2 separate regions of the Homo sapiens genome follow, and region 2 is linked to region 1. The links come from fine-mapping of genetic effects on gene expression. A gene starts in region 1. The other region holds a variant in brackets. All regions are shown on one strand. Distances are between the middles of the regions.

What was found. PIP is the estimated chance that this variant, and not a neighbour inherited with it, causes the effect.
Region 2: its variant is fine-mapped to the expression of HGS in whole blood (TOPMed, PIP above 0.99).

What each region holds. Positions count from the first base shown.
Region 1 is chr17:81,680,695-81,686,063 of GRCh38, forward strand. It overlaps HGS (hepatocyte growth factor-regulated tyrosine kinase substrate), which reads left to right and starts at 3,317. Exons shown (of 22, transcript NM_004712.5): 1 at 3,317-3,409; 2 at 4,911-4,995. The coding sequence starts at 3,373. ARL16 (ARF like GTPase 16) reads right to left here and starts at 3,103. Exons shown (of 5, transcript NM_001040025.3): 1 at 2,999-3,103; 2 at 2,842-2,900; 3 at 2,319-2,432; 4 at 1,340-1,455; 5 at 493-1,185. The coding sequence starts at 3,059. The coding sequence ends at 1,014. RefSeq lists enhancers at 2,568-2,787, 3,005-3,299 and silencers at 2,888-2,967, 3,178-3,237, 3,448-3,547.
Region 2 is chr17:81,623,638-81,629,006 of GRCh38, forward strand. The region is part of intron 2 of NPLOC4 (NPL4 homolog, ubiquitin recognition factor); the gene reads right to left. Among named protein-coding and RNA genes, the nearest start is that of NPLOC4, 11 kb to the right of the region's middle. The variant A/G (reference allele first, on the strand shown) is at 2,908.

The DNA of each region.
Region 1 (5,369 bases):
CTGCCTTCTAGGTTCAAGCGATTCTCCTGCCTCAGCCTCCCGAGTAGCTGGGATTACAGGCATAAGCCACCACGCCCAGCTAATTTTTTGTATTTTTAGTAGTGACAGGGTTTCACCATGTTGGCCAGTCTGGTCTCGAACTCCTGATCTGGTGATCTGCCTGCCTCAGCCTCCCAAAGTGCTGGGATTACAGGCGTGAGCCACTGCGTCCGGCCACCAGCTTGTTTCTAACTCGAGGCCTGGCTCTTACTACCACACTCACTTCACCTGCCTCATGCCGTCTGTGGCAGATGCAGGGTCAGGGTACCAGCGGCTCAGCAGGTTGGAGGTTGTGCTACAGCAAGAGGCCAGGTTTCAGTGGCACTGTGCAGTCCATACGCCTTGGGGGCAGTCCAGCAGGTCTCCAGGAAGGAGGTGAGCCAACCCCAATAGCACCACTCTAAGATACAGAACACTCGGCCATCTGCAGGCCCTGCTCATCCAGTCTGGGGACAGGTTTTTATTTTTTTATTTCTTATATTTTTTAAGACGGAGTTTCACTCTTGTTGCCCAGGTGCAGTGCAATGGCATGATCTCGACTCACTGCAACCTCCACCTCCCAGGTTCAAGGGATTCTCCTGTCTCAGCCTCCCAAGTAGCTGAGATTACAGGCATGCACCAGCACACCCAGCTAATTTTGTATTTTTAGTAGAGACAGGGTTTCTCCATGTTGGTCAGGCTAGTCTCGAACTCCCGACCTCAGGTGATACACCCGCCTCGGCCTCTCAAAGTGCTGGGATTACAGGTGTGAGCCACCATGCCTAGCCCCTGGGGACACTTTTTTCAGAGGCCAGATGTCAACTTCCATCTCCACATGCCTCAGTTTACACATCATTGCATCTCAGCACAGAGCCCCATCATGTAGGGTTACTTTGGGTTATTCTGCCCCTGTGAGAAGAAACTATTGGCAGCAAAGCCATACTGCCCTCTGCCACCTCTCCCCAGCTCAGGCCAGCTGCGCCTCTGCCGTGCAGTCAATCGTTGGCTCTGTGGGTGGCCTGGAGCCAGGCCAGCACCCCTGCTAAGCCAGTGCCTTCACGGGCGCTGATTTCTGCCGTGGTGATGTTCTGCTTGGCACAAGCAATGATGTCTGGAAGCCTGATTAATGACTTCATCTCCTCCGTGGACATGTAACAGGGTAGGTCGCTGGAGAGAAAGAGGTGCCCCATCAGAGCAGTGGCAGCCACACACCTGCCCCGGACCCCCAGCTGCACCACCTCCCTACCGAGCCATGCTTCCGGCTGTAACCCGAGGGAGCCCCCGCCCCCGCTGTGCTCCCTCTCAGCTCAGGGACGCGTACATTTTATTGAAGAGTATCAGCACCGATGCTTCTGCAAGTTGTTCTGCAGAAAGGAGACCTAAGAGCTGCACACAGGATGCAGAGAGCTGGGTGGGGTCAGAGGCGTCCATCACAAACTGGGGAAAAAGAAAAAGACAGCAGCAATGCCCCGCTGCCAAACTTCCTCCCCTGGGCCTCACAGACCTGGCACTGGGAGAGCAAAACTGCATTTTTTAATTAATTAATTTATTTTTTGAGACGAAGTCTCGCTCCGAGTGCAGTGGCACGATCTCGGCTCACTGAAACTCCGCCTCCAGGGTTCAGGGTTCAAGTGATTCTCCTGCCTCAGCCTCCCAAGTAACTGGGACTACAGACACCCGCCACCACGCCTGGCTAATTTTTTGTACTTTTAGTAGAGACGGGGTTTCACCATGTTAGTCAGGATGGTCTCCATCTCCTGACCTCGTGATTCGCCCACCTCAGCTTCCCAAAGTGCTGGGATTACAGGAGTAAGCCACCGCGCCCGGCCCAAAGTAGCTTTAAACAAAGCTTTGGGAACAAGCAGAAGCAGAGGGAATCGAGTTTTATGAAGACGACCTGGTGTCACTCGTCTCTGTCCTCATGTGGCCATCAGTTCTCCATACTGGTATCCGCGGCACAGGCCTTATCAAGATGAGACCAACCAGAGGTACGTATAAGTCCAACATAAACACAGACGTACCGGGGAGTGACACAGAGGGCCAAGTCTGTTCTCTGCGGAGCAGCAGCCCTGCCCTCAGCAAGCCCTCTGTGAGCTCCTACCGGGGGCCTGGGAGCGCAAGCACCAGAAACCAGACAGGGTGCCCAGCAGGAAGCAACACTAGCTAAGACCTATTTCCATGAGTAGTATAGTCACTAAATAACCCAAACCCCTTTCTACACACAGCAAGGTTGGGGACTGGACGTCACAGAAATGTAGACACACTTCCCTAAAGGAAGCCCATATAGGATTACAACCCACCAGGAGAGAACGGCAGTTTCCATAGTAACTGGACCAGATGGGGCCCATGCACCCCCCAAGCTCCCGGATGGTGATCTTTCTCTGTGCCACGATGTCAGTAAGATTGGTGCCCACCTATAGGAAAAACCACGATGCAAAAAGAACAATACAACCGCTGTCCCGTTGTGAACTCCTGAAGAGCACCGTGCCCACACCTTACACGGTGGCCTGAACCCCGCAGACCCATTCTCCCTAACGCAGGAACGGCGAGCAGGGACCGACGCCCATCAGTAGCTGGACTCGCTGTGGGGGCGACCAGCCACAGGAAGCCGTTGCGAGGGGAGAGGAAGTGCCCGTGGAGGGCGGCAGGCCCCCTCATCCCGCGCCAATTATCCTCAGCTCGGGCCGTCCCCCGCTCCCGAAGGCTGGCCTTAAGTCACGACCTGACCCGCTGCGCCTCGGCGTGCACTTAGAGGAGCCCGGAGCTCTTCGCCAAGCGCAGAACTGACCCCCCGCAACTCCACCCGCGGGGGCGGACACCTACCGTGGGCCGTGTCGGGGGCGGCTCCCCCAGGTCGCCTTTCCCATCCCGGGAGCTCACCTGTGCGAAGCGGTCAAGGACCCGAGCAGCTAAAGGGTGAGTCCCCGCCCCACTCCGGGTGCCCCCCGCGCCCCGGTCCCGTCCCCGCGCGGAAGGATATCCTGCAGCCGTTTCACCAGCAGCGTCTTCCCGACGCCCGTGGCCCCCAGCAGGAGACACATTCCGTGCTTCGCTCCACCCGGCACCCGTAGCTCGGCGCCGCGGCTCAAGGCCCGCCCACCGGCCACTCTCATTGGATAGTTCTCACCTTCGGACTTCTCATTGGTTCTTAGGGCTCATTGTTCCAAGGGCGCGTCCAATTAGCGCGCAGCGTTAGCGGGAGAGCGGAAGACCCCGCCTCCTCGCGGCTCTAGGGCCGGCGCGGTGACGTGCGCGTGCGCGCACTGGAGGGAAAAGGCGGAAGCGGAAGTCGGGGGGCGCGCCAGCTCGTAGCAGGGGAGCGCCCGCGGCGTCGGGTTTGGGCTGGAGGTCGCCATGGGGCGAGGCAGCGGCACCTTCGAGCGTCTCCTAGGTAACGCGTCCCCACCCGACGGCTCGGCCTTGGTCAGCCCGCAGCCTCCGCCCGGCGCTGAGTCAGCGCGGCCCCGAGGGCCCGAGGGGCGCGGACCGGCCGCCCTGCCCGCCTCTCCCCGGCCCGCTGTCCTCCCGGGTTCGGAGCCGCCGATCCTGGACCCTCGGCGCGGCCGTGGGGTCGGCGTCCGTCGGGCGTTGGCAAATGGGGCTCTGCGAGGGTCCGCGCAGGGCGCCAGGGGCGCTCGGCGACCTCGCTCCTCCGCGGGCCCGGGCATTCGGCCGATTTCCTCTTGACCGACGAGCACCCGGCCGAGTGGGCCACAAGGCCTGAGTCATGAAAGTGGGTGACTCAGTCGGATGTTAGGCTCGCACTTGGGCTTCTGACCCAAAACACTGGGCCTCGAAGGGTGGAGCCGGCAGTGTTCTCTCTGGGACCTTCGAGCTCTCTTGGGGGCTGCGGGTCCCAGACCCACCTTTTGTTCCCACACTGGCTTCGGGAAGTGCCTAATGGTTTAGGAAGGCGTTTTCTCACGTTTTTGGAGGTGAAAGCTGATCCTATCTGAGCCTCCTGGAATTGACGCGTTTTGGGAGGGAAACGAATGTTGATGTGCACGTGCCCAGCAGCACGTGGAAAATGCGTCTAATGTTTGGGGGTAGGAGCTTGGGTGGTCGAATGGGCTGCCCAAGCTTGCCTTTTTGTCAAGTAGGGTTTTCAAGGAGACTTCAAGTGAGACACCTTCCTTGCCAAGGGAACCAGCAAGCAGACTGAGTATCTCAGCCACACAGGTAGTTCAGTGCTTCAGGGATGAATCCAGAGGTTAACTACTGAATCAGTATAGAAAGTGGACGTGGCTTGGCTTGTTAGATCGTTTCTGTATCCGGGAAAGGCGATGTGGGCAGAGCTGGAGCTGCCCCCCCAGAGGGGCCAGTTGTTGGAGACAGCAGTGATGTGGTATGATGACAGGTATGCTGGCGAGTCCTCCTTGGAGCCCCGTTCTGCCCTTATTTCCAAAGCACTTGGCTTGGAGCAAGGGGCCTGGAGTCTACACTGCAGGCCTCTCTAGCCCTTGCCCAAGCTAAGGTCCCATTGAAACCGGGAGCATCTGGGCGAACGGGGACTCCAAGGGACGGGTGATAGGGTTCTTTGTTGAGAAGCAGCCGAGCCTGATGTTTAAGAGTGAATCAGCCTCTGTCTCTGGTGAGCTGTGTGACTCACGGCAGTGCCCTCGCCTCTCTGCTGAGTGTCTTTACCTCGCTCGCGGGTTGTGGGAGGGCTTGGACCAGCACCTGGTGTGCTCTTACGCTGTTTGCTGCTTCCCTGGGGAGGATGGCACTTCCCTGCCCATCAGCACGCTCAGGAGGATTCTGTCATGCTTTTTCATTTGGTCCAAATGTCTAAAGGGGAAGGAGAGAGTCCCCCCCAGCTGCTGCCAAGCTGGGGTGCTGCACGGGGCGTCCAGCAGGATAACCCCTCCCTTTCATGGCATTTTCTCTCTCAGACAAGGCGACCAGCCAGCTCCTGTTGGAGACAGATTGGGAGTCCATTTTGCAGATCTGCGACCTGATCCGCCAAGGGGACACACAGTGAGTTAGCGGGGCCTGTGCCCTGATGCGGAGGAGCAGCCGTGCACTAAGCTGGGCTCGCTTGGTGCCCGTTGGGTCTCCACGACGTAGCTGACCGTGTTAGGCTCTTATGTGGAGAACTGCATGGGCTACATGCTAGGATTTTTTGACATCTTGGAGGATTAAGGGGTTTTCTCTGTACAGCTTGCAGATACCTGGTTATGTTTGTATTTGCTTCGGGGTTCTCAAAGACTAAGATGGCAGACAGACTTTTTTTTTTAAGACGGGGCCTTGCTTTGTCACCCAGGCTGAAGTGCAGTGGCGTGATCTCAGCTCACTGCAGCCCCTGCCTCCCAAGCTCAAACGATCGTCCCACCTCAACCTCCTGAGTAGCT
Region 2 (5,369 bases), 57 kb before region 1:
AATACAAAAAATTAGCCGGGCGTGGTGGTGGGCGCCTGCAGTCCCAGCTACTCGGGAGGCTGAGGCAGGAGAGTGGCGTGAACCCGGGAGGCGGAGCTTGCAGTGAGCCGAGATCGCGCCACTGCACTCCAGCCAGGACGACAGAGCGAGACTCCGTCTCAAAAAAAAAAACAAAACTCAATTCCAATTCTGAAACCTAACACAGAATGGTGCGACTAAATCATAAAACGTCCACTGTGCAGGGCACTTTGCTAGATGCTGGGAATATTCACTCATTCCTTCAACAAATATTAAGCAGTTCTATGTGCTCAGCTCCATTCTGGGTGTTCAGATCACAAAAATGAACTAGAAAAGACAAGGTTTCTGGCCGGGCGTGGTGGCTCATGTCTGCAATCCCAGCACTTCGGGAGGCCAAGGCGGGTGGATCACTTCAAGTCAGGAGTTCAAGACCAGCCTGACCAACATGGTGAAACCCCATCTCTCCTAAAAATACAAAAATTAGGCCAGGTGTGGTGACTCACGCCTGTAATCCCAGCACTCTGGGAGGCCGAGGTGGGCGGATCACGAGGTCAGGAGATCGAGGCCAGCCTGGCCACCTTGATGAAACCCCATTTCTACTAAAATACAAAAATTAGCTAGGCGTGGTGGCGGACACTTGTTATCCCAGCTACTCAGGAGGCTGCGGCAAGAGAATTGCTTGAAACCAGAAGGCAGAGGTTGCAGTGAGCCAAGATGGCGCCATTGCACTCCAGCCTGGGCGACAAGAGTGAAACTCCGTCTCAAAAAAACAAAAACAAAAACAAAGACAAAAATTAGCCAGGCATGGTGGTGCACGCCTACAGTCCCAGCTAGTCGGTGGGCTGAGACAGGAGAATCACTTCGACCTGGGAGGCGGAGCTGCAGTGAGATGAGATCACGCCATTACACTCTAGCCTGGGCAACGGAACAAGACTCCACCTCAAAAAAAGAAAAACAAAAAAAAGACAAGGTTCCTGCTGTCAAGCAGTTTACCAACAAATGGGGGAGACAAAGTCAACAAAGGTCGAAATAAGCACTACGACAGAAAAGGAAAAGAAACCTCAGATGGGAGGCTAGAAGTCTCTCTGAAGAGCTTCAGCTGAGCAGGGCCCACCCAGCGGTGGGTAAGCCCGCCACACGCGAGCTGGGAGAAAAGGCCACAGGGAGTAGGAGCAAGCACAAAGACCAGGAGGCAGGAAGGGTGTTGGAAACACGGAGGCCAGAGGCCAATAAACAATAAGGAAGATGGAAAGAGATGAGGCTGGCGAGGCAGACAGGGCCGTGGGAAGCCACACAGACGAAAGGCAGGGGGAATCATCATCCACAAAATCCCTGTTGCTCAACACCACACTGAAGAGGAAGCTAGAGTGCCAATTAGAGACAAGAGAGATGGGCTGAGACAGGGGATGAGATGGGACAGGATGGTGGGGATGAAGGCAAGAGCACACTTTCCAGCAGTGGTCATCACCAGGCCCAGCTGACGAGCAGGACCAGGGGCAGGAATGGAATGAGAGAAAGGAAGGAGGTCAGAGTAAAGCTGAGAATTCTAGATTGAGAAACTATGTGGAGGTAACACCTGTGCAGGGACCATGAAAGGAAAGGCTAAAAAAGGAAGAAGACTAGAGGGAAAATCAGGACTTCCATTTGACACTGAGATCGGAGGTGACAACCAGACACACTGCAGTGAAGCCGTCCAGCAGGCAGGTGGGCGCATCTGTGTCTGAGCCCAGGCAAGGGGCCAGAGCAAGAGCTCTACACCGAGGGGTCATCAGAGTAGATGTACCCAAATAAAAGGAATGTGAATCTCGGTAAAGAAACAAATCATAAAAGAACAATCAAATGGAAATTCTAGAACTGAAAAACACAAGAACAGAAATAAAAAATTCACTGAACGGGCTTATCAGCAGAAGGGAGAGAGCAGAAGAGTCAACCTAAACATAGGTGAATAGCTTGTGGTCCCAGCAACTCGGAAGGCTGAGGTGGAAGCACTGCTTGAGCCCAGAAGTTTAAGGCTACAATGAGATATGATCACACCACTGCACTCCAGCCTGAGCGACAGAGTGAGAATCCAACCAACTCTAAAAAGAAAAACATAAATGAATCAATAAAAATAACAGCTATATAATCTGAAGGCAGAGATTTGGGGAAAAAAAAAACAGCCTTAGGAACCCATGGTACAGGATCAAATGCTCCTCACTAGAAAAAAATGAGGGTTGGGCGCGGAGGTTCAAGCCTGTAATCCCAACACTTTGGGAGGCCGAGTTGGGCAGATCACCTGAAGTCAGGAGTTTGAGACCAGCCTGGCCAACATGGTGAAATCCCATCTCTACTAAAAATACAAAAATTAGACAGGTGTGGTGGTGCACCCCTGTAATCCCAGCTACTCAGGAGGCTGAAACAGGAGAATCGCTTGAACCTGGGAGGTGGAGGTTGCAGTGGGCAGAGATTGCGCCACTGCACTCCAGCCCAAGCGACAGAGTGAGACTTCATCTCAAAAAAAAAAAAAAAAAATTAGCCAGGTGAGCTGGCACGTGCCTGTAATCTCAGTTACTCGGGAGGCTGAGCCAGGAAAACCGCTTGAACCCCGGAGGCGGAGGTTGCAGTCAGCCAAGATCGCGCCACTGCACTCCAGCCTGGGCAACAGAGCGAGACTCCATCTCAAGAAAAAAAAAAAAGAAAAGAATGAAAATAGAACAGAAAAATACTTAAGAGTGGGGAAAACCCCAAAATTTAATGAAAAACATCAAATAGCAACTCCAGGAAGTTCAGCAAACTCTCTCAAGTTAAGATACAAAGAACACCACTGCAAGGCACACCAGAGTCACCCTACTGAAAGCCAGAGGTCAACGAAGACGAGAAGACCAAGAAGACGGTGGAACGACAGCTTCA[A/G]ATGCTCAACAGGACCAGGCACCGCGGCTCCCGCCTGGAATCCCAGCATCCAGGAGACAGAGTGGGGAGGATCACTTGAGGAAATCAAGACCAGCCTAGACAACATGGTGAAACCCCATCTCTACCAAAAAATTAAGAAATTAGCTAGGAAGCTCACGTGGGAGGATCGTTTGAGCCCGGGAAGTCAAGGCTGCAGTGAGCTGTGACTTTGCCAGTGCACTCCAACCTAGGCAAAAATAATAATAATAATAATTTTAAAATGGACTGGGTGAGGGTGGATCATACCTGTAATCCCAGCACTTTGGGAGGCTGAGGCGGGCGGATCACCTGAGATCAGGAATTCGAGACCAGACTGGCCAACATAGTGAAACCTCGTCTCTACTAAAAATACAAAAATCAGCTGGGCATGGTGGTGCGAGCCTGTAGTCCCAGCTACTCGGGAGGCTGAGGCAACAGAATCACTTGAACCCGGGAGGCGGAGGTTGCAGTGAGGCAAGATTGTGCCGCTGCACTCCAGCTTGGGCGACACAATGAGACTTCGTCTCAAAAAAAAAAAAGAAAAAGGGCCAGGTGTGGTGGCTCACTCTTGTAATCCCGGCACATTGGGAGGCCGAGGCAGGCGGATCATGAGGTCAGGAGATCGAGACCATCCTCACTAACACAGTGAAACCCCATCTCTACTAAAAACACAAAAAACATTAGCCGGGCATGGTGGCGGGTGCCTGTAGTCCCAGCTACTCGGGAGGCTGAGGCAGGGAAATGGCATGAACCTGGGAGGCAGAGCTTGCAGTGAGCCGAGATCGCGCCACTGCATTCCAGCCTGGGCAACAGAAAGACTCCGTCTCAAAAAAAAAAAAAAATTGATGCATGGTGGGGAACAAAAATGAACTGTCAACTCAGAAATCTGTTTTGAGGCCAGGTGCAGTGGCTCACGCCTGTAACCCCAGCACTTTGGGAGGCCAAGGCGGGTGGATCACCTGAGGTCAGGAGTTCGAGACCAGCCTGACCAACATGGTGAAACTCCATCTCTATTAAAAAGACAAACTTAGCCGGACTTGGTGGCGTATGCCTGTAATCCCAGCTACTCGGAAGGCTGAGGCAGAATTGCTTGAACCCGGGAGGCTGAGGCAGGAGAATTGCTTGAACACAGGAGGCAGAGGCTGCAATGAGCCAAGATCATGCCATCACACTCCAGCCTGGGCAACAAGAGCGAAACTCTGTCTCAAAAAACAAAAACAAAAATTAGCCAGGTATTGTGGTGCACACCTGTAATCCCAGCTACTTGGGAGGCTGAGGCAGGAGAACTGCTGGAACCCAGGAGGCGGAGGTTGCACTGAGCCGAGATCACGCCACCACATTCCAGCCTGGGCGACAGAAAAAGACTCCATCTCAAAAAAAGAAATTTGTATTGAATGAAAATATCCTTGGGAGGCCAAGGCGGGCAGATCACGAGGTCAGGAGATGAAGACCATCCTGGCTAACATGGTGAAATCCCGTCTCTACTAAAAATACAAAAAATTAGCCAGGCATGGTGGTGGGCGCCTGTAGTCCAGCTACTCGGGAGGCTGAGGCAGGAGAGTGGCGTGAACCCGGGAGGCGGAGCTTGCAGTGAGCCAAGATCATGCCACTGCATTCCAGCCTTGGAGACAGAGCGAGACTCCCTCTCATAAAAAAAAAAAGAAAAAAAAAAGAAAAAGAAAATATATCCTTCATGGCTGGGCACGGTGGCTCACACTGAAGCGGGTGGATCACGAGGTCGGGAGTTCAAGACCAGCATGGTGAAGATAGTGAAACCCCGTCTCTACTAAAAATACAAAAAATTAGTCAGGTATGGTGGCGGGTGCCTGTAATCCTAGCTACTCGAGAGGCTTAGGCAGAGGATTGCTTGAACCCAGGAGGCAGAGGTTGCAGTGAGCCGAGATCATGCCACTGCACTCCAGCCTGGGCAACAGAGTGAGATGCCATCTCAAAAAAAAAGAAAATAACCCTCATATAAACACAGGGCAAAACGAAAACATTTTCAGGTCAAAAAAACCCAAAGGTCTGTGACCAACAAACCTACCTACAACAAAGGCTAATGGATGTTTTTCAGTCTGAAGAGAAACAACACCAGACAGAAATAGTCTGGGGGAATCCATGGGAAAAGTAAATAAGGAAGAAACTGTGAAGATAAGCTAAGAAGTACATAATATGCAACTATCACAGTAAATGAAATATTTTGTGATTGGTTAAAAAAAGAAAAACTGTCATGGGAATCCTGGACACAATGCAGGTCAGGAGACCAGGGAGGAGCCAGGGATGATTCTTTGAGTCAACTGTAGTCATATCTACAATTCATACTTTTTTTTTTTTTTGAGACAGTCTCACTCTGTCGCCCAGGCTGGAGTGCAGTGGCGCGATCTCAGCTCACTGCAAGCTCCGCCTCCTGGGTTCACATCATTCTCCTGCCTCAGCCTCACCAG